3 separate regions of the Homo sapiens genome follow, and all the other regions are linked to region 1. Evidence: fine-mapped expression QTL. A gene starts in region 1. Each other region holds a variant in brackets. All regions are shown on one strand. Distances are from middle to middle.

Region 1 (7,926 bases):
GAAATACAATCTACCGTCAGAGAATACTACAAACACCTCTACACAAATACTAGAAAATCTAGAAGAAATGGATAAATTCCTGGACACATACACCCTCCCAAGATTAAACCAGAAGGAAATCAAATCCCTAAATAGACCAATAAAAAGTTCTGAATTTGAGGCAGTAATTAATAACCTACCAACCAAAAAAAGCCCAGGACTAGATGGATTCACAGCCGAATTCTACCAGAGATACAAAGAGGAGCTGGTGCCATTCCTTCTGAAACTATTCCAAACAATAAAAAAAGAGGGACTCCTCCCTAACTCATTTTATGAGGCCAGCATCATCCTGATACCAAAACCTGGCAGAGACACAACAAAAAAAGAAAATTTTAGGCCAATATCCCTGATGAACATTGATGTAAAAATCCTCAATAAAATACAGGCAAACTGAATCCAGCAGCATATCAAAAAGCTTATCCACCAGCCGGGCATGGTGGCTCGTGCCTGTAATCCCAGCACTTTGGGAGGCTGAGGTGGGTGGATCATGAGGTCAGGAGATCGAGACCATCCTGGCTAACACAGTGAAACTCTGTCTGTACTAAAAATACAGAAAAATTAGCTGGGCGTGGTAGTGGGCACCTGCAGTCCCAGCTACTCAGGAGGCTGAGGCAGGAGAATGGCATGAACCCAGGAGGCGGAACTTGCAGTGAGCCAAGATTGTTCCACTGCACTCTGGCCTGGGCGACAGAGCAAGACTCCACCTCAAAAAAAAAAAAAAAAAAAGCTTATCCACCACAATCAAGTTGGCTTCATCCCTGGTATGCAAGGTTGGTTCAACATATGCAAATCAATAAATGTAATTCATCACATAAACAGAACCAATGACAAAAACCACATGATTATCTCAATAGATGTAGAAAAGGCCTTTGATAAAATTCAACATCCCTTCATGTTAAAAACTCTTAATAAACTAGGTACTGATGGAACGTATCTCAAAATAATGAGAGCTATTTATGACAAACCCACAGCCATTATCATACTGAATGGGCAAAATCTGGAAGCATTCCCTTTGAAAACTAGCACAAGGATGCCCTCTCTCACCACTCCTATTCAACATAATATTGAAAGTTCTGACCAGGGCAATCAGGCAAGAGAAAGAAGTAAAGGGTATTCAGATAAGAAGAGAGGAAATCAAATAGTCTCTGTTTGCAGATGACATGATTGTATATTTAGAAAACTCCATTGTCTTAGCCCAAAATCTCCTTAAGCTGATAAGCAGCTTCAGCAGTCTCAGGATACAAAATCAATGTGCAAAAATCACAAGCATTCCTATACACCAAAAATAGACAAACAGAGAGCCAAGTCGTGAGTGAACTGCCATTCACAATTGCTACAAAGAGAATATAATACCTAGGAATACAACTTACAAGGGATGTGAAGGACCTCTTCAAGGAGAACTACAAACCACTGCTCAAGGAAATAAGAAAGTACACAAACAAATGGAAAACCATTCCATGCTCATAGATAGGAAGAATCAATATCATGAAAATGGCCATATTGCCCAAAGTAATTTATAGGTTCAATGCTATTTCCATCAAACTACTATTGACTTTCTTCACAGAATTAGAAAAAACTACTTTAAATTTCATACAGAACCAAAAACGAGCCCATATAGCCAAGACAATTGTAAGCCAAAAGAACAAAGCTGGAGGCAGCACGCTAACTGACTTCAAACTATACTACAAGGCTGCAGTAACCAAAACAGCATGGTACTGGTACCAAAACAGATATATAGACCAATGGAGCAGAACAGAGGCCTCAGAAATAACATCACACATCTACAACCATCTGATCTTTGACAAACCTAACAAAAACAAGCAATGGGGAAAGGATTCCCTATTTAATAAATGGTGTTGGGAAAACTGGCTAGCAATTATGCAGAAAACTGAAACTGGTTCCCTTCCTTATACCTTACACAAAAATTAACTCAAGATGGATTAAAGACTTAAATGTTAGACCTAAAACCACAAAAACCCCAGAAGAAAACCTAGGCAATACCATTCAGGACAAAGGCATGGGCAAAGACTTCAATACTAAAACATCAAAATCAATGGCAACAAAAGCCAAAATTGACAAATGGGACCTAATTAAACTAAAGAGCTTCTGCACAGCAAAAGAAACTATCATCAGAGTGAACAGGGAACCTACAGAATGGGAGAAAATTTTTGCAGTCTATCCATTTGACAAAAGGCTAATATCCAGAATCTACAAAGAACTCAAACAAATTTACAAGAAAAAAAAAAAAACCCCAACAAAAAGTGGGCAAAGGATATGAAGACACTTCTCAAAAGAAGACATTTATGCGGCCAAGAAACATATGAAAAAAGCTCATCATCACTGGTCATTAGAGAAATGCAAATCAAAACTACAATGAGATACCATCTCATGCCAGTTAGAATGGCAATCATTAAAAAATCAGGAAACAACAGATGCTGGAGAGGATGTAGAGAAATGGGAATGTTTTCACACTGTTGGTGGGAGTGTAAACTAGTTCAACCATTGTGGAATACAGTGTGGCGATTCCTCAAGGATCTAGAACTAGAAATACCATTTGACCCAGCAATCCCATTACTGGTTATATACCCAAAGGATTATAAATCATGCTGCTATAAAGACACATGCACACTTATGTTTATTGCAGCACTGTTCACAATAGCAAAGACTTGGAACCAACCCAAATGCCCATCAATGATACACTGGATAAAGAAAATGTGGCATATATATACCATGGAATACCATGCAGCCATAAAAAAGGATGAGTTCATGTCCTTTGCAGGGACATGGATGAAGCTGGAAACCATCATTCTCAGCAAACTAACACAAGAACAGAAAGCCAAACAACGCATGTTCTCACTCATAGGTGGGAACTGAACAATGAGAACACATGGACACAGGTAGGGGAACATCATACACTGGGGTATGTCACGGGGTGGGGGGCAAGGGGAGGGATAGCATTAGGAGAAATATCTAATGTAGATGACAAGTTAATAGGTGCAGCACACCAACATGGCATATGTATACATATGTAACAAACCTGCACATTGTGCACATGTACCCTAGAACTTAAAGTATAATTTTAAAAAATCAGTTTTCTTTTGGCTTTTTCTTAGCTTTATACTTAAATATTTTTTTCTAATGTAATTAGAGTGGAATTGTTTTTTGAATTTTATTTTTGGATTACTCATAGCTAGTATATACAATTGCAATTGAATTTTATATTTTGATTTTGTATCTTTTCACCTTGCTGAACTCATTTATTTGTTCTAGTAGATTTTAGGAAATTCCTTACAGACTTTTACATATAAGTTTATGAAAGATGCAATAAAGGACTTTATCTTCTTTTCCAAAAAAAAAAAAAATTTGTGCACTTAGCTCAGAAAAAAGTAAACAAAAAATTAACACAGTTACAAATTAGGATTTTTAGTGCAGGGGAAGAAGTTGTCACCACGCCTCTAAGAGGAAGGGGAAGTCTCAGAAGTATTTTCAGTTTATGACAGAAGGGCAAAAACATTGACTGCCTCAAGGTCTCAAGCACCAGTCTTCACCGCGGAAAGCATGTTGTGGCTGTTCCAATCGCTCCTGTTTGTCTTCTGCTTTGGCCCAGGTAAATGTCAATCCAGATCGGTGTAGTCACTGAGTGACTCCCTGGTTTTGTGCAGCTTGCTCAACCTAAATCGTCTGTATACAGTTGTCTGGCTCTCTGCCAAGGGATTGGGGCGGGAAAGGGGACGCTGGCAGTGTTACCTGATATACTACTACCTCCTCTCAACTTTGGATGCGATAAGCCTGAGATGGTTGTCGGTGAACAATTTCAATTGTGTCTGCATGTAAGAAAGTTATTTGCTGGGGCAGAGGAAATAAGCTTTTGAAGACAAGACTGTTTGTGGTTTATGACCAGCATCTTGTGTTATAAAGAGTACCAAGACCAAGAAAATGGGCCCTCATACCAATGTATCTACTATCGTACTGTGAACCTCAGGGAGGTTACTTATCCTTCCTGAACCTCACTATCCTCATCTAAATTATTAAAAACCTATTATTCAGTTGAGCCAAATTTTCTGGGCCCAACCAAACACACCAAAAATAACCCTCTCACCTTTTGCTCATTGCAAAAAAAAAGGTTTCCATCTCTCCCCTCCTTTAGTGCAAATTAGGGCTAGCTAGTCCAGCAATGCATTATATATGGCAGTGAGAAAAGAATGAACTGATCCAGCTGGCTTCTTGTTTCCTGCTGTCCATTATATGGAGAAGATGAAGATTCATATCACATTTGGGGAACTACAAGTGGTCCACGGGAGACAAAGTGTAGCATTCAGGCAGAGATAGTCCAGGAGACCAATGGAAATCTAGTCCAGAGCTAGCCCAGGGTAGCAGATAAAAGTAGGAAGCATTCACTGAGCACTTATTGTATTTCAAGTATTGTGCCAGGTGCTGTACACACGTTATGAGTCTCATGAGAATTCTATGAATTTATACTATTAATATCTCCATTTTAAAATGAAGAACTGAGGTGAACTTAATTTAAATAATTTGCCCAAATTTCATTAGCCAGCATGCGACAAGCTCTTGTAATAGTTATGAGAAAAAATAACAGTTCAACAAGTGTGGCAGCAGCATAAGAGAAAGAAGAGACTGAAGCAAGAGATCCCATCAATATGGAGTTAAGTAGAGTAATTGGTAATTGGAATGAGAAAGGAATAAATATTCATTGAGCACCTACTGAATGCTTGGCACTCTTCTAGTTTGCATGAATACATCATGAACAAAGCAAGCAAAAATTCCTGCCCTCATGGAGTTAACATTTTAGCAGGAGACAAACTGTAAAAAAAGATAAACAAGTAAAATAGTGTATTGGGTAGGAAGAAATAAATCAAGAAGGAAAGGGAGAGATGAAATATGGTAAAGACGGCAGTGAAATTTCAGACAGGATAGCCAAAGAAAGTGACAAAATTGGAAGGTGGAGAGCAGCCACAGGAGGAAGGTGAGTTCAATTTTGGACCTACTGATTTTAGGATGTCAGTGTGCTATACATGAGGAAGTTACGTGGAGGATCCTGGGAACTTAGGACTAGGGGTAGAGCTGAGGCTAGAGACTTAAAAATCAATGGCATAGAGATATGTTAAGCTGAGGAGAAAACTGGAATGAGAACAGAACTTTGGGAAATATATATAAAATGCAGAAAGAGAGAGAATTCTTTCCTTCATTCAAGAGCCACTTCCTGATCTAGGAGCAGAATCTTGAGTTTTTGCTTCATTTTTACCACCCTGCAAAATTATTTCCACCTCTAGAATAAAATATTCTGAATGTCCTTGTGTTAAAACTCCTCTTCTTCTCCCTATTTCCATGAATACTTCTTATAATGACCCTATGAAATATACAGTGCTCCAATCTCCACTTCACAGATGGGGAAAGAAGGCACAGAACACTAAAGTAACTTGCTCACTGCCCCACATTTATGGGGGAAATGGGTATAGAAAGAGAAACACATTTGAATGAGTTTACAGGAGGCAGATGCAGGTGTTCTGAGACCCAGGAGGAGAGAAGTGGCTGCTAGAATTGGAAATCAGGAAGCTTGGCTCCGGAGTCTGTGCTCATAGCCACTTCACTATGCTACTTAGCTTACACACAGTCATACATTCACACAAATGTGTACATAATTAGAAAATGTGAGGCCAGCAAAAAAAATAAGCAGGGCACCTTCATAGAGAAAAACACGGGGACCTGCTTTGGACGGAGTGATGAAGAAAGGACTTCCTGGAAAAGTAACATCTCATCTGATATTTAAAGGGTGTGAAAAGTTAAACAGGAAAAGTCAAATGAAGAAGATTTTAGGGCAGAGGGAATCATGTGTGAAAAGCCGTGATGCAGGAAAGAGCCTGGAGTGATTTAGGAAGGGAAAGAAGACCACTGTTGCAAAAATGTGGGGCAAATGAAATTAATCTTTGAAACAACCATGAAAAACAATGACTCATGCCAGCCTACATTCTTTGAAGTGGGTTGGGCACTATCCTGACTCCTTTTAGAAAATTTAGTGGAAAAGACAAACCATATTGAAAAATAATCCCATTTCCTTTAACTCAAGCCCTGGGTGGCAAAACTAACAGAACAAAACAATAATTGTAAATAAAATCAAGCATCATGACTTCCTAGAGAAAATAAATCTCGTTTGTTTCTTCATTTTGATTTTTATAGATGGAAAGTTGGAAATTTGTCAAACTTAAATGTGCATATAAATTACTTGGGGGAATCTTATTAAAATGCTGATTGGGGAATAGGGACTGAGATTCTGCATTTCTAAGAGGCTCCCAGGTGACACCAATGCTGCCTGTCCATGGACCACACTAAGCAGCAAGGTTCTAAATTCCAATGGACTTCAGTCATACTGGGATTGTAGGGAGGAAGAAATAGAAACTAACTTTGAGTGTGTTTGCAGGAAGCAGATATAGGTATTCTGAGGTCCAGGAGAGAGCAGTGGTTGGAAATGTAAGTAAAGCAAACACATGAGGGCTGATTCTGAGGTTGAGTCAAAATGTGCAATGCTCTTCTGTGAAGAGATTGTGACCTGATGGCCCCCGAGCAGTGTTATCTACTTTTTACCAACCGTCCACATCTTTCAAATGTTTATTGTGCTCAACAGGCAGAGAGCTGTTTTATATTTTTTCATTATCCTCAGACACGTGTTTTTCCACCTCTCAGAATCTGCAATCTCCAATGTGACCTCCAGGTGTTCATGCCTCTGTTTTTGGTCCCTTAACCCAGATTCAGCTTTGATTGTTTCTCTGTTCACACTCAGACATTTTTTATTAAGGTGAAATTCTTGTAACAGGATGTAATAATTTTAAAGTGACATTTTGTACATTTTGTGAAACCACCACTTCTATTATTCTAAAACATTTTCATCACCCCAAAAGGAAACCCTGTACCCACTAAGCAGTCATTTCCCATTCTCCCCTCCCCCCCAGCCCCTGGCAAATACCGATCTGCTTTCTGTCTCTGTGGGTTTACCTATTCTGGATAATTTCATATAAATGAAATCACACAATATATGACCTTTCGTGTCTGACTTCTTTCACTTAGCATCATGTTTTCCAGGTTCACCTATGCTGAACCATGTATCAGTACTTCATTCCTTTTTGGCTGAATAGTATTTTGTATTCTGTATATACTACATTTTATTTATCCATTTATCTATCAGTGGACACCTGGGTTGTTTTTGCCTTTTGGCTCTTGCGAATAGTGCTGCTATGTGTACAAGTATTTGACTACCTGTTTTTATCTGGGTATATACCTAGGAATGGATTTGTCAGATCATATAATTCTATGCTTAACTTTTTGGGAAATTGCCAAACTGTTTTCCACAATGGCTGTACCATTTTACATTTCCACTAGCTGTGTACAAGAGTTATAATTTCTCCACATCCTCATCAACACTTGTTTTTTTCCTTTTTAAAAAGATTATTATCACCATCCTAATAGGTGTGAAGTGGTATATTATTGTGGTTTTGATTTACATTTTCCCAATGACAAATGATTTTGAGTATCTTTTTAAGTGTTTATTGGCCATTTGTATATCCTCTTTGGAGAAATGTCTATTCAAGTCCTTTGCCCATTTTAGTTGAATTATTTGTCTTTTTGCTATTGAGTTATAAGAGTTGTTTATACATTCTTGGAACCAGACCTTTAATACATGACCTGAAAATATTTTCTCCCATTCTGTAGGTTGTCTTTTCACTTTCTTAATAATGTTCTTTGATGCACAAAAGTCTTTAATTTTGATGAAGCACAATTTACCTATTTTTATCTTTTTTCTTTTTTATCATTTTATTTTAAGTTCCAGGATACACGTGCAGGATATGCAAGTTTGTTACATAGGTAAACATGTGC
Region 2 (7,926 bases), 64 kb after region 1:
TCTAGGTCTTCTAGCCTTCTGAGGTCACCCTTTCCTTCAACATTTAAATAAAATACCTCCCGCACCTTCCCACACCCAGTTGGAGACCTCCATCTGTGAGGATTGCTGGATGGGTGGGAAGGGAGCAGTGCTTATATTCTGCTGGTAGCCTCTCATCCATGTTGCTGCTCCCATATAATTTCCAGTCCCTGTTATCACCTCACTTTCTAGAACCATGTTTCTCTCCATGCTGCTTCATCAGAAGCATGGACCCAGCCATCAAAAGAACACCAACACAAGCCTGACGATTTGAGGATAAGGGCAGGAGACTACAGCAGAGGACAGACTAGGAAACAGATTAAAATTGAGTTATTGGCTGGGCGTGGTGGCTCACGCCTGTAATCCCAGCACATTGGGACGCCAAGGCAGGTGGATCTCCTGAGGTCAGGAGTTCAAGACCAGCCTGGCCAACATGGTGAGACCCCCATCTCTACTAAAAATACAAAAATTAGCTAGGCATTGTAGCACGTGCCTGTAATCCCAGCTACTCGGGAGGCTGAGGCAGGAGAATCACTTGAATCCAGGAGGTGGAGGCTGCAGAGATCCGAGATAGCGCCATTGCACTCCAGCCTGGGTAACAGAGTGAGATTCCATCTCAAAAATAAACAAACAAATAAATAAATAAAAGTTATTTAAATCACTGTCCTCAAATTCCTTTGGTCATCCCTGCACAGGAACTTTCTCTTTGGGTACTATTTTCCTTAGGCCCCAGCATGTACCCTTCCCGGGAGCCTACTGGGTCTCACTCTCCTTTTCTCCAGGTTCCAGACCCCCAAATCTAGTCACATGAGTCAATAGCTAAAATTTCAGGATTTCTGCAAGTTAGCTGTTAAGCATCCCGTCAGTAACTAAATGCTGATATTTAAATAAATTATATATTTTTAAAAGGGTAGTAAGTACTCAAATGCATCACTTCTTAATTATTTTACTATCCTTTACTATTCTATGCTCTTGAGAGGATTTACATCTACTGCACACACATAGAGGAAACACTATATAATGGTGCACATCTTTTCCTAACTCAGTGACTTGATGGAAATGCTACCACAGAAATGGACAAGTGCTACAAATCAGAGTTTTAGAGTACTTTGTATTGTTTGGTTGTTGTTGTTATTGGAGAGGTGATTGTTAAACGTTTACCAGCACAAAACTCCCCCACTCTTCCAGGAAAAAACTGAAACACACCTGTCACTCCAGACTCCAGTACACAGACCAATTTAAACTATTTTTACTCACAGTATATCTCTTTTCAGAACATGCTATGGGGCCTAGATCTGAACAAAGTGGCCCGTTAAGGAGTTTGTCTAAACCCAATAGCCTTCTACTTCTCAGATGAGTTTTACCAACATCCCTAAAATTTGAAACAGCTGCCATGGTTTTTTTCAAATAATCCATTTACTAATCTTTGCGTTTTCCTCTGTTTTCTTCAAAAGCATATATTGAACACAATATTCAGTGTTAAGATGCCTCATGAGAAGCTGGGGTGAAAGAAGAGGGTAGAGAAGTGTGTTGCAACTTTGGAAAAACTGAGTCTCCCTCAAAGAAGGGGGTTAGGAGGGTTAGAGTTAGAGTTGTTGTTGAAGAAAAACTCCCAAAAACAAAGCTAGTGGAAACTCTTTCTCTCTGAGGGGGATAATAAAAGTGAGGGGAGCACCCCTTCCATTGTTCATGAGTCATTTCCTGTTTTAATTCTTCCTGTTTGTCCTTGGTTTTTCCACAGTAAATGTCGACTCCACCTTTCACTCTTACCTCCCCTCCTGGGTCATGATGATCACGGCCCAGTATTGCGTGAACATGTTGGTGGCCTGAAAGCACTCTGAGGATGAAAACTGTTAGGGAGCCAGAAATGACTTCTAAATCTGCAAACTGGTCTGAACTGTTTCTTCCTTCTTTGATTTTATTTCTCTTTCCTTCTTTTTTCCTTCCTTCCTCATGATCTTCCCCCACGCCTCCCTTTCTATCCTTTCTTTCCTTCTTTTGAGTGTTGCTTTCAGTGCTTTAAATGTTTCTCCATTGGGAATTGCTACTACAAGGACAGGAAGTAAGGTTTTGAGCACAAGATTTTGACATTGGTCCACCAGCAGCATGAGAAAGAGACAAATAAGAGAAAGGAGCAAAACGGTGTTCCTTTGAAAGCGGAACCCTAAAAATGAAACTTCTTAGCCTTGTTTACCCTTATCCAAATAACTTCTGAGTAACTACCTCTGAGAATAATAATAGCTATCCTTGGTGTGGCTGCTTTCTTCTGAAGTGTTCAAATAACTAAAAAGAGCAGGAACTTTGTCGTGGGGCGCTCTGAGAGTAACGCTGGCCACTCCTTGCTGGCTGGCTGGCTGGCCCTGTGTGCTTTGCACCCCCTCTTCCAGCAGTCTCCCTGGCACAGTTTGACAGTCAGTAGCCAGCATCATTGTGATTGGCCAGCAACTGCGCTGGACCAGTTGCTAAATATTTTTTAGTCAACTTTGATTAAATTAAATAGTGTCTGTAAAAAGCCTATCACAGAGCCTGCCTGGCATATAGTAGTGGGTGTTTAAACATTTTTAGTTCTAACAAATTTTTCCTACCCACCCACCTTCAAACCTCATTATCAACACAGTTCTGTTGGGAAGCAGGGAAAAAAAGTATTATTATTATTCTTATGTGACACACTTACATAAAGGAAAATTTAGGTGCAGAGGTGAATGGACTAAGAACACAGTCGTGAGTCAGAGGTACCAGTGCTTGAACAAGACTCCCCATGCCAACTCAGAGCATTAACCAAAAGACTCAGGACTCTGGTAATCAATTAACAGTTTCAAAGTGGAACGAGCACTAACTTTGGAGTCAGAAAAAATCTGGGTTTAGATTTTTCTGCCACTTACCATGAGACCTTGAACAAATCACTTGACCTCTCTAAGCCTGTTTTCCCATGTGTAAAATGGGACCAATATACCTAAACGATTACGTGAGATAATGCATGTGTAAAAGGATTTAAAATGAGATTCTTTCTTGTTTAGTTTGAGCCCAGGCTCCAAAAATCAGTTAGCCTTGGTGTGGTTGCTTTCAAAACAAAACAAAACAATAGATGCTAAGCTCTCCCCACATTACAAAGCTTGCCCACTTTTTCAGGGATTGACAAAGGAGATGACCAAAAGCTGGCTTTGTGGCTCTTGGCACATCACCCATATCAGGAGTCGAAGTTGAAGAGAAGGAGGGGAGAGGATTTCTCCATAAAGAGTCATTGGAATGCTGTGCTACTATGGGGAAGGGGGGGCGCCCTTCCATGGGGAAGGGAGACTTTCCCTTCACTTCAAGCCAGCTGAATGAGCTTCAACAGGACCATAAGTGGAAGATCACTCAGAGTGACATTTGTCCTCTGGAGTTTGGCATATATAAGGAATGTGAAGACAGGCTGTTGATAGATGTGCCTGAGGCCACACAGCAGAGAAAGAATGAGGACTGACCATCTACAGATGGTAGGAAAACAATGCAGAAGTGTTTCCCAAGACCACACATAGACTTTCCAAGTCAGAGTTGGCCAGGAGTCTGTTTGAAAGCTCATTATAGAGTGATAACCATAACCAACTCTGGGAAGCTCAGTCCCGGAAGTTGAAGTGAAAACCAGCCAGTCACATAAGAAGCACCACCTACCTCACAGGAATTACAGTTAAAAGTTCCCAGCAAAGGAATCTTTGAAGAACCTAAAATATACCCCATGGGAAAACTAGCCAGCAATTGTACATCTGCTCCATTCCTGGTCACAAAGGCATATAAGCTGCACTTAAGCCTCTATTCCACATCCTTTCCTGACATGGCTCCCATGGTCACCTCTGGCTCCAAATTCCTGATTCAGTTGAATTAGTTCAGATTACAGGTCATTTGACCCCTTGTGGGTGTTTCCTTATTTGTTACCACCTTAAACCTAGGCAAGGCCCAGCATCCTTGCCATAATTTTCACCTAAACAGCCCGATGTACACAAGGCTGCTGCATGGATGGAACATTCTGGTTATACTGAATGTTTTTGAAAGAGGCATTGGTTTACACTGAAGCAACACAAAGTGGCAACTATCATTTTATCTTCCCATCAAGAATTTCCACCTCCTTTCTTCTCATTAAAGACCCTTAGCCCCAGGCAAAAACAGAGGTACATGACCTGTGTGGGATAATCATGGTGCTCTATTTCCCTGGCATTGACAAGGGATGGACATGTAATCCAAGCCGGGACAATTATAACACATCCTTGGAA[T/C]TGTTATATGGATACTTAGAGAAAAAAGCTCTCTATGGTTGCTGAGCTGAGTCTGGCTGCAACCATGTCTCCTTTCTGTCTCTTTCACATGGCAAAGTCCTTTCTGTCATAGGAAAATGTGAGGTCAACATGGAAAGGGAAACAGAGTTAAGCAGAGATGAGAAAGATAGGAAAGGAAAGGATGGAGTGAGGGAGAGAAAGAGATTTGGCAGCGTTAATTCAAGTTTCTGTACGGTGTCTGCCGCTTTAGTTTCTATAATTCTTCCTTGGATGCAGCAAACAATCCTGGAATCTTTCCAAATGTTGTGAGCCACTAAGATCCCTTTTTTGTATAAGCTTCTTGGAACTGGGTTTATGTTACTTTCAAACACCAGAAACCTCAATAATACAGCAAAAAGTTTCCAATTAAACGTTGGGTATCTCTAACCTTAAAAGCCCCTTTTTCCATTCTATCCCCAGGGATTTTCACTCCATGTACCTCTCTGGTTTTATACCCTCTTAAGGCTTTGCTCCTTCCTCCTTCCCTTTCCTGTTTCCTCCTAGGATCAAAACCAAATTCCTTCCTTCCTCTGCTTATGCAGAACAATTCAGCCATTTTTTAAAAACTCTATTGGTTCCTGAAGTCCATGGCCACATCTTTTGCCATGAGTGGTTTATCAGGATATTTTCCCAAAGACAGTTCAATACAAGAAAAAGTCTTGAGCATTGTATTGGCTATTAGAGAAAAAAATCCAATCCATACAGTCTTTCTCTAACAAGTTTTTGGATAGTTGGTCAGGTAAATTATTTAAGTTTTCTCACCTATAAAGTTACATTTTAGAGTTAAAAAGTCTGTATAGATAAGCTAACCCAAGCCCTTTAATAAGATTAGAGAAGGTAAGTAGCTTGTCATGTACTATAAAGAAGTTAGTAGTAATGTCATGATTAGGACATTGGTGCCGAATTTTGGTCCAGGGCCTCAAGACCCCAGAAAAAAAGAACAAGCCTTTATGACTTGACTATTGTCATAATTTAGGTTGATTTCAGTTTGGAAACTTAGTATCCAAAAGAGATCTCCAAGCTTCAGTCCCTCAACTATAACATGGTAAAAAATAGATCACCAGTTCTCAAACACTTTTAGATATGGAATCTTTTCTTTTTATTTTATTTTATTTATTATTATTATTATTTTGAGACAGAGTCTTGCTGTTATCAGCCCAGGCTGGAGTGCAATGGTGTGATCTCAGCTCATCACAACCTCTACCTCCTGGGTTCCAGCAATTCTCCTGCCTCAGCCTCCCGAGTAGCTGAGATTACAGGCGCGTGCCACCACACCTGGCTAATTTTTGTATTTTTTTGTAGAGATGGAGTTTCACCATGTTGGCCAGGCTGGTCTCAAACTCCTGACCTCTGGTGATCCACCCGCCTCGGCCTCCCAAAGTGCTGGATTACAGGTGTGAGCCACCTTTTATTTAAGTGAAATCTTATACTGATGGGAAATAAAAATAAAATAATGGTAATAATAAACGTGTTAGCTCAGATCCTCCAGGAAGCAGATGCCAAAGATTTATTGGGGGAGATGGCTGTGAAGGAAAAAGAAGATAGAGATGGAGATGATAGGGAAACTCCTTAGACCATGTAGATGCGAACCCTGGGAAAAAGAGAGGAAAGGAAGAAGGATTAAGTAAGAATAGTCTCAGACTTCTGCACTGTTCTAAGATAGTTTCAGGCCAGGTGCAGTGGCTCACGCCTGTAAGTAATCACAGCACTTTGGGAGGCCAAGACAGAAGGATCACTTGAGCTCAGGAGTTCCAGACCAGCCTGGGTTACACAGTGAGACCTCATCTCTACTAAAATTCAAAAAAAATAGCAGGGCATGGTGGCACATGCCTATAGTGCCAGCTACTCAAGGGGCGGTGCAGCAGGGTGAGTGGGGGCTGGCAGTGCTGAGGTGGGAGGATCGCTTCAGCCTGGAACGTCAAGGTTGCAGTGAGTCCTGATCATGCCACTGCACTCCAGCATGGGTGACAGAGTGAGACTCTGACTCAAAAAAATAAAAGTGTCAGCCAGGCTGATGGGGAGTCCTCAAGTCAAAGTCACCCATCAGAAGAGTCTGCATCTTGCAGAAAAAGGTCTGCATTCACATTTGTACCACATTTAATCATTGGTTAGGAGCAGCCCATTAAAAGTCTGGCTTCAGTGGAAATACAAGGTAGAGTCAGAGAACAGCTGCTGGAGTCACCAATCAACTGCCCAAAATAAAAGGCCTGACATGTACTTTCATGGCTGCTTCAATTTAAAATATCTTTTAATTTTTTAAGTAGAAGGAAGGGAGGAAAAAATTGAAATAGTCACCGAATATTCCAAATTTGGTGAAACTATAAATTCTTATAACCAAGAAGCTCACTAAATCCCAATCATAAGAAATTTAAGAGAAGTATGCCAAGGAACATCATAATCAAATTACTTAAAACCATTAATAAAAACAAAAATTTAAAAGCAGACAGAGAAAAAAGACACAATATGTACAAAGGAAGAAAGGTAAAAATGAAAGCAGACTTCTTGGCTGGGCGCGGTGGCTCACGCCTGTAATCCCAGCACTTTGGAAGGCCAAGGTGGGTGGATCACCTGAGGTCAGGAGTTCAAGGCCAGCCTGGCCAACATGGCGAAACTCCATCTCTACTAAAAATACAAAAATTAGCCGGGCATGGTGGGGGGCACTTGTAATGTCAGCTACTAGGGAGGATTAGGCTGGAGAATCACTTGAGCCTGGGAGGGGGAGGTTGCAGTGAGCTGAGATCAGGCCATTGCACTCCAGCCTGGGCGACAAGAGCGAAACTCAGTCTTGGGGGAAAAAAAAAAAAAAAGAGACTTCTCAATGCAAGCCAGAAGACACTGGAGCAACATCTTAAAAGCAAGGAGGGAAACACACACACACACACACACACCTGTCAACATAAAATCCTATACTCAGTGAAAATAACCTTAAAAAAAAAGGTAAAATAAAGACTTTTGTAGACATACAGAAGCTGAAAGAATTCACCACAAGCATATCAGCGCTGTAAGAAATGTTACAGGAAGCCTTTCAGGAAGAATGAAAGTGATCACAAATGGTTTTATCAGAGGAGGTGGCACAGCTACCACTGAGCCTTTTCCTTACCCCTCTCCTGAGGTGCTCCCAGTGGGAACTTTGGAGATGCCTAAGGATGCCTAAAAACCACCTCAAGTTATTTCTAATGGTCTTTCCAGTTCTTGCCTTTCAAAATGACTTAATTCTGGATTGTATATTTTCTCTTGGGCATTTTGCCTATAACAGAATGAACACCCATCCAGTAATGATGAGTTAAGAGTCGTGAATGAGTTATGGTTTCATGATGCAAAGAGTCAGGAATCATAACTTAATGAGATGATAGTTCAGAAATTGTCCTTTTTTCCAGTGCTAGTGATAAATATCAAGTATTGTTTTGATCATCAGCAATCAGGGATGTGGCAGAGGAATTTCAAAGGGGAAGAATTTGTGCTAGAACTCAGAGTCAGGCAAAACTGATAGTACGAATCAGGGCGTATAGTAGTTGAAAGCATACTGAAGTTGACTATTGGGAAATTGAGGGCTAGGCCAGCTCCACACAGTTGCGCAAGTTTGAGACTCATTCTTCCCTCTGGACCTCAGTTTCTTCATATT
Region 3 (7,926 bases), 23 kb after region 1:
CAAAGTAGTCACCATTCCCCTGAAATCCCTCTCCCCTTTGATGCCACACCTACCTATACTATGCCTATTGCTAATATTAGGTGATCCCCAGCACCTTCTTTCCCTGTTCCTGGGCTACAAGTGCTATAATCATTGGAGAAAGTTATTAGTGTGGTGCAAAAGTGATTGCGGATTTTCCCATTGAAGGTAATGGCAAAATCCGCAATCACTTTCGCACCAGCCAATGCAAAACTGGATGGACTCCATGAATGGTGCGTGTCAACCAAGCTTGGCCAATTCCTCCTCACTGCTTCCACACTCATTTATTGATGACTTGTCAGTTTCCTAACAAATTCCTCATAGCAGCTTTTACATGTCTCATCCGTCTTCCTCTAGATTCTATGAGATCTACTTCTCTTAGAACAACTTTGAGAAAAACATAAGCGAAATATTCCAACTTCTTCCCCTTTACCCTCTAAATCTTTTGAGATCTTTAACCTTATTCTTTTCAGTCTCAAAAGAAAAGGAGAACCACGTCTACCCAAGACTAACCTCTTCACTTATGCTCCTAAGCCCACCCTGGCTTCCTCCTCAGAAATGACACCGTTTTGAATACTCCCTTTCACCATATCTTAAGTTTTTTCTTTTTCTCCCAGCTGCTTCCCTTTGCTCCAAATTTGCTCAGGACTCTGTTACCTAAAGAGTAACTTCCATTTGTCCTACCTTCTCAATATCCTGACTATGTTTCTCCTCCCTTCTCTTTAAATTCTCTTGAGAAATCAGCCCCTACTCTCTTTCATACTGCATTTGCCTCCTGTGGAGCTAACACAGCTTGCTATATTCCTGTTAGCTATAGATGGGCCTAAGCTAGTCCCTCAGGTTAGAAACCCAAAGTTCCTTGACTTTTCTCTCTTTTTCAGAATCTGCTTAGTTCTACCTCTCTCCTCTCTTTCCTAAGACACTGCTCTCTTTATACTTTGCCAATTTTCAAAAATACTTCATGTTTTTTAATACCTTCCAAACTAACCCTCCACTAATCAGGTAACCCTTAAAAACTTCTCTATTCTAATTCCAATCTACTTAACATTCACTGAGTTCCCTGGACCAGGTTATGGGGAAATACAATGCTGACTAAGATATTATTTGAGTTCCCCAAAACACATCATACAGTAGATGAAACTTGTAAACAAATGTACCCCAAATGTCTGCTGTCTTGACATCCTCACCAGTGGATGGGCAAGACCTCAGCATCACCTTCATGTTGCAAGGAGTTCCCCAGTGACTTATGAGAGTCTCAAAGGAAAGCTTCCCATGAGTCCCCAAAGCAGCCTACGAGTTGTAGCCAACATGAGGCATCTTTCCCATTCTTAATCTCCTTTTCTGGTTCTAGTCCCCCACACAGGATGCCAGCAGAGCCATTTAGATGCCCTGCTTATTCCAAGAACATCAATGTCCATGCCAAGGGTGCTGGTCCCGGATGCTCCCAAAGCATCAGTGTTGATTCCTGGCAGAGCAGAGAAAAGGACCTCCATGTGCCCTCTGGGCCACACCACAACACCTTGGCCCTGAAGCAGCTCTGCTCCTGTCCAAAGTCTCATGCAGGGTCTTTTAAACATTTTCAGTAGCATCTGACCTTCACTGTCCCTAAGCATATTGTCTCAAATCTAGTTTTGCTTTGGTTTGGTTTTGGGTCTGTGGGGAACTATTCCTACCATCTCATCCATCCTGTGCTCCTTCTCCCTTTGCTTCACCACAAACTCCTTTCTCCCCTTCCCCATGTACCAATGCAAAACCCCCATAAATATAAGAGGCAAACAGATATTTTAGCTCATCCTTGAAGGATAAATAGGAGCTTACCATGTAGGAAAGATGAAGAAAGGCATTTTAAGCAGAGGGAAAAGCAGTGCAAAAAAAAAAAAAAAGCAAGGCATTATTGGAAGAATTACAAATAATTAAGTAATGGAGAACTCATAGCTTTTATTCAAGACTTTGCTACAGTGTCATCTCCTGTGAACTGTTCCCTGACAACTCCCAACTCTTCCCAGTTCATGATTCTCTAAATTTTTGCTCCCATGGAGCACATATCTCTAACAATTCAACATTTATTGAGCTAGAAATTGTGTGCTAAGTTCTAGGAATATAGAAATAATAATCAGAATCCCTGACCTCAAGATTATGGAAAAGAAAAGAAAATAATCTTGTAATTATAACAAAGAGAAAGAACTGCTTGCAATTGCATGTATAACTGCAATAGTGATACGAGGGCAATGCAGAGGCAAGCCTTACACTAGCTCAATGCCCAACCCACCACATCAGAACTAACTACTCATTTACCTGTCAGGCTCCTCTATCAGATGATGGACCCAGAGGACTGACAGTATCTTATATTCCCAGTTTCCAGTCTAGAAACTGGTACATAAAACAGACCTAATAAATATGCCATGGTTCCTAAGGTTTTACTAATTGAATTAGCATGGAAGTTAGCAAATATTAGAATATTTGAACACCAGAATGAATAAACAAACAAACAAATAAATAAATTTCTGTGCTTGTCTTTGCAGATTGGCTCTGTTTTGGGGCACTCCTTTAATGCCTAGACAGGCTACCACTCTGCCTTAGCCTTGACTTTCTTCTTGTAAGCAGCATAAATAGCCATAGATAAAATCTTGTTACATAAACTAATTATTTCAATCTATAAAATCAATGGAACTTAAACAAGCGTTCCAGGCAAGGGAAGAACAGCTCCTGGTGAGTCCTTAGGCCACTGAGTAAGCCCAGACTCCCTACCAAAAGGAACTGAGCTTTAACATTCTAGACAGAAAACCTCCAAGAGAAGGGATGGAGATATGTCCATTCACTCAGTAAATATTCATGGGATGCTTACTATGTGCCAGGTGCTGTTCAAGAATGTTCACAATAGTAGACAAAACAGACAAAAATCTTTGTCTCCATGGAGATTACATTCTAGTGGAGAGGTGAGAAAATAAACAAAAACAAATATTTAAATTATAAAGTATACTAGATGGTAAGTACTAGATGGTAAATCCAAAGGCAGCTGGATGTGCAAGGGTGGATGGGGGCTGATGGTGCAAAAAGAGTGGTCACACTTCTTTAAATTCTCTGAGCAGGAATGTTTGCATTAATGACTTTATGGAGGCAAAAGAGTGAGCTGCATGGATACTTGGAGAAAGTACATTCCAGACAGAAAGGATTGCAAATGCAAAAGCCCTGGCCTGCTCAAGGAATAGCCAAGGGGGCTGGAGCAAAGTGAACAAGGGGGAGAATATAGGAATTAGGTCAAAGAAAGAGAAATGGCCAGATCATTTTGGTCCTTATAGACCATAGACATGATTTTGTTTTGCTCTGCTTTTGTTACTGTTTTAACTTTTTAAACTGAAATACAAAGAGAAAAACTATACGAATCTTAAATGTCAGCTCAATGAATTATCATAAAATGAACAAATCTGTGTAGCCAAATACAGATCTAGAGATAGGACATTATCAGTATTCCAGGATCCTTCCTTTATACTCCCTCCTATTCACCACCTCTCCCTCCTCAAAGGTAACCACTCTCTTGACTTCTGACAGCATAGATTTGTCTGTTTATCAACTTTAAATAAATAGAATCATATATTTGTATTCTCTGGTATCTGGACATTCTGCTCAAAATGTTGCTTGTGGTATTCACCCATGTGATTCAGAGGAAAGAGGAATAAAGATGACAAATAACAGTGTGTTAAAATGCTGATGGGAAAGATGTTGATGACAGCAATGTTCATGTGCCTGGAACCCATATGACAATTCATGAAAGAGAGAGGAAGTGCAAGCTCACCCAGGAGCTGAGCACTAGGACTCCAAGAGACATTTCCTTCCCTATTCAGCTCCTCCTATAAGAAATAAGAAACCCTCAGAAATGACAACTTTCCATGCTCATGGATTGGAAGAATCAACATCGTTAAAATGGCCATACCACACAAAGCAATTTCTAGATTCAGTGCTATTCCTATCAAACTACCAATGTCATTCTTCACAGAATTAGAAAAACCATTCTAAAATTCATATGGAACCAAAAAAAGAGCCCAAATAGTCAAAGCAATTCTAAGCAAAAACAAAAAATCCAGAGACATCACACTATCTGACTTTGAACCATACCATAAGACTATAGTAACCAAAACAGCATGGTACCGTTACACAAACAGACACATAGACAACTGGAAGAGAACAAAAAACTCAGAAATAAAGCCACACCCTTACAACCATCTGATTTTTGACAAGGCCAACAAAAGCGAGCAATGGGGAAAGGACTCCCTGTTCAATAAATGGTGCTGGATAACTGGCTAGCCATATGCAGAAGATTGAAACTGGACCCTTACCTTTAACCATATACGAAAATTAACTCAAGATGGATCAAATATTTAAATGTAAAACCTCAAGCTATAAAAATCCTAGAAAAAAATAGGAAATACCCTTCTTGACACTGGCCTTGGCAAAGAATTTTTGGCTAGGTCCCCAAAAGCAATTGCAACAAAAACGAAAATTGACAAGTG[G/A]AACCTAAGTAAACTATAGAGCTTCTGCACAGCAAAAGAAACTATCATTACCGTAAACAGACATCTTACAGAATGAGAGAAAATATTTGCAAACTATGTACCCAACATAAGGTCTAATATCCAGAATCTATAAGGAGCTTAAACCAATAAGCAAAAAGACGAATAACCCCATTAAAAAATGGGCAAAGGACATGAACAGGCACTTCTTAAATGAAGATATACAAGCACTCAGCAAACATGAAAAAATGCTCAGCATCAGTAATCATCAGAGAAATCCAAATCAAAACCACAATGAAATACCATCTCACACCAGTCAGAATGGCTATTATTAAAAAGTCAAAAAAAAGAACACAATAGATGCTGGTTTGGTTTTTGATATGGTTTGATTGTGTCCCCACCCAAATCTCATCTTGAACTGTAGAGCTCCCATTATTCCCACATGTCATGGGAGGGACCTGGTAGGAGGTAATTGAATCTGGGGGTAGGTCTTTCCTGTGCTATTCTCATGATAGTGAATAAGTCTCATGAGTTCTGATGGTTTTATAAAGGGGAGTTCCCCTGCACATGTTCTCTTTGCCTGCCACCATGTAAGACGTGACTTTGCTCCTCCTTCACCTTCCACCATGCTTGTGAGTGCCATGGCCTCCCCAGCCATGGGGAACTGTGAGTCAATTAAACATCTTTCCTTTATAAATTACTAGTCTTGAGTATGTCTTTATCAGCAGTGTGAAAATGGACAAATAACACTTTTTTGACTTTTTAATAATAGCCATTCTGTCAGAATGACAGCTGGAAGAGAACAGAAAATTCAGAATACACTAATACACTTTTTTGTATTTTTGTATAGCCATATGCAGAAGATTGAAACTGGACCCTTCATTCTTTCAGAATGTCTATTATTAAAAGTCAAAAAATAAAAAAAAAACAGGTGCTAGGTCCCACTTGGTGAGGTTGCAGAGAAAAGGAAACAGTTATACACTGTTATTGGGAAATATAAATTTTCACTGTGGAAAGCAGTTTGGAGATTTTTCAAAAAACTTAAAACTGAGCTACCATTCAACCCAGCAATCCCATTACTGGGTATATAGCCAAAGGAAAATAGATCATTATACCAAAAAGACACATGCACTTGTATGTTCATACTATGCTATTCATAATAGCAAAGACACAGAATCAACCTAGGTTCCAATCAATGATGGATTGGATAAAGAAAATTTGGTATATATACACCATGGAATACTAACCAGCCATAAAAAAGAATTAAATCATGTCTTTTGCAGTAACACGGGTGGAGCTGGAGGCCATAATCCTAGCACACCAACACAGGAACAGAAAACCAAATACTACATGCTCTCACTTATAAGTGGGAGCTAAACACTGAGCACACATGGACATAAATATGGGATTAATAGACGCTGTGGACTACTAGAGGGGGAAGGAAGGGAACAGGTAATGGGTTGAATAACTACCTATTAGTTATTATGTCCACTATCTGGGTGTGATATACCCATGTAACAAATCTGCACATGTACCCCCATATCTAAAATAAAAGTTGAAATTTTTAAGAAAAAGAAGCAAGAGATCCTGAGAAGGTTGAGGTAATTGTTATAGTTATTCATTCATTGACCCACTAGAACATTTCCACAGACTCTACTATGTGTCAGACATGGTGCTGAGTACTGACATGCAAGGCTAATTAAGGCGTGGTCAGTTAGACAAACAGGTGAACAAAACTACAAAATAGTGTAATAATTGCTAAGAATTTGGGAAAGGATGCTAAGGAAGCATCTTCTTTAAGAATCATTGTGACCATTTCACCGTTTTTGCTTAAACATTGATAGTTCTGAATAAGTTCACAAGAATGTGGCCATCATGTGTTACTTTGAAATTATATTTATTATTTCTATATGTATCCATTTTGTCTCCTCAATAACTAAACTATAATCTTTCTGAGAGAATTAAAAAAAAATCTTCTGGTATCATGAAGACAGCACAAAGTCACTGGAGTCAGAAGACCTGGGTTTGAATCCTGACTCTGCTATTCTTTAGCTGTGCAACCCTGGGAAAATTAGTTAACTTTTCTGTAGCTCAGTTCCTTTATCTATAAATGGAAGTAATAATATCCATCCTGCCTGCCTCACAGACTGTAGTCAGCGTCAATGAAATAATATATAAGAAGAACTGACTATCCTATAAATCCCTGATATTAGTCCCTGTTACCAGCCTTCTAAGTTGCACAAGCCTACTATGTTGGACACACAGTAAGTAATCAGTAAATATCAGGCTTTAATTATGCTTTATTAGCAAAGACTTGCAGTTTTTGGAGTCTATAGTTTCCTGTCCCCCTCAACCTAATGTCCAAGGACTTCAGAGGCTAGGATCACAAAGTATAGTTATGACCTAGGAGTGACCAGCCAGTGTAGGACCCAGCGTGGACTGGGCCGGTTTCATCTAGACTAGCTGCCTACTAACCAAGAGTGGCTGACATTTTGCTGGAGGTGAAGCTCTGGGACTGTGATTATTCATTTAGAAACATCTCCTACCCTTTCCTACTCTGTCATATCTCTGAGTTTTGGTATCAGAGAGCTCTAACAGACTGGCAGCGTTAGGTGAAAGGGTGCAGGACTTGGCAGGGAGATGGTCAGGAACATTTTTAAAACCTTTCCTTCTGTGTTTACAGGGAATGTAGTTTCACAAAGCAGCTTAACCCCATTGATGGTGAACGGGATTCTGGGGGAGTCAGTAACTCTTCCCCTGGAGTTTCCTGCAGGAGAGAAGGTCAACTTCATCACTTGGCTTTTCAATGAAACATCTCTTGCCTTCATAGTACCCCATGAAACCAAAAGTCCAGAAATCCACGTGACTAATCCGAAACAGGGAAAGCGACTGAACTTCACCCAGTCCTACTCCCTGCAACTCAGCAACCTGAAGATGGAAGACACAGGCTCTTACAGAGCCCAGATATCCACAAAGACCTCTGCAAAGCTGTCCAGTTACACTCTGAGGATATTAAGTAAGTCAAAATATGGGGTTTAATTCCATATGGACTGAAAAATATACATGTATTCCAATCCTATGTGACTTCAAATGTGCACTGTCGCCTAGTGGTAAAGAATATGGCATTTGGAGTCATTGAGTCAGTGTCAACACAATGACACTGCAAAGCCAGTTAATGACAGAGCTGAAGACAGAGCCTAAGTCTTGTGTCCCAGCCCAGAATTACTTCACTCCGATAAAATGGTCTTCTTCAACCAGAAATGTAGCAGAAGTAATGGAAGTCAAATATTTATGATAGTGTTGCCTTGTGCACTACATGTATTTGCCATGTAATTCTCACAAAGACTCCATGAGGTAGGTACAGACCTTATACCCTTGAGGCACAGCCTCAGTCACAGTGATT

What was found. PIP is the estimated chance that this variant, and not a neighbour inherited with it, causes the effect. A credible set is the group of variants that fine-mapping cannot tell apart.
Region 2: its variant is the best candidate, but not a certain one, in a credible set for the expression of SLAMF6 in whole blood (INTERVAL, PIP 0.83).
Region 3: its variant is the best candidate, but not a certain one, in a credible set for the expression of SLAMF6 in lymphoblastoid cells (GTEx, PIP 0.61).

What each region holds. Positions count from the first base shown.
Region 1 is chr1:160,518,864-160,526,789 of GRCh38, reverse strand. SLAMF6 (SLAM family member 6) reads left to right here and starts at 3,535. Exons shown (of 8, transcript NM_001184714.2): 1 at 3,535-3,646. The coding sequence starts at 3,598. RefSeq lists an enhancer at 3,701-3,750.
Region 2 is chr1:160,454,738-160,462,663 of GRCh38, reverse strand. No RefSeq gene overlaps it. Among named protein-coding and RNA genes, the nearest start is that of VANGL2, 58 kb to the right of the region's middle. The variant T/C (reference allele first, on the strand shown) is at 4,266.
Region 3 is chr1:160,495,674-160,503,599 of GRCh38, reverse strand. It overlaps SLAMF6 (SLAM family member 6), which reads left to right. Exons shown (of 8, transcript NM_001184714.2): 2 at 7,207-7,539. Among named protein-coding and RNA genes, the nearest start is that of SLAMF6, 24 kb to the left of the region's middle. The variant G/A (reference allele first, on the strand shown) is at 4,527.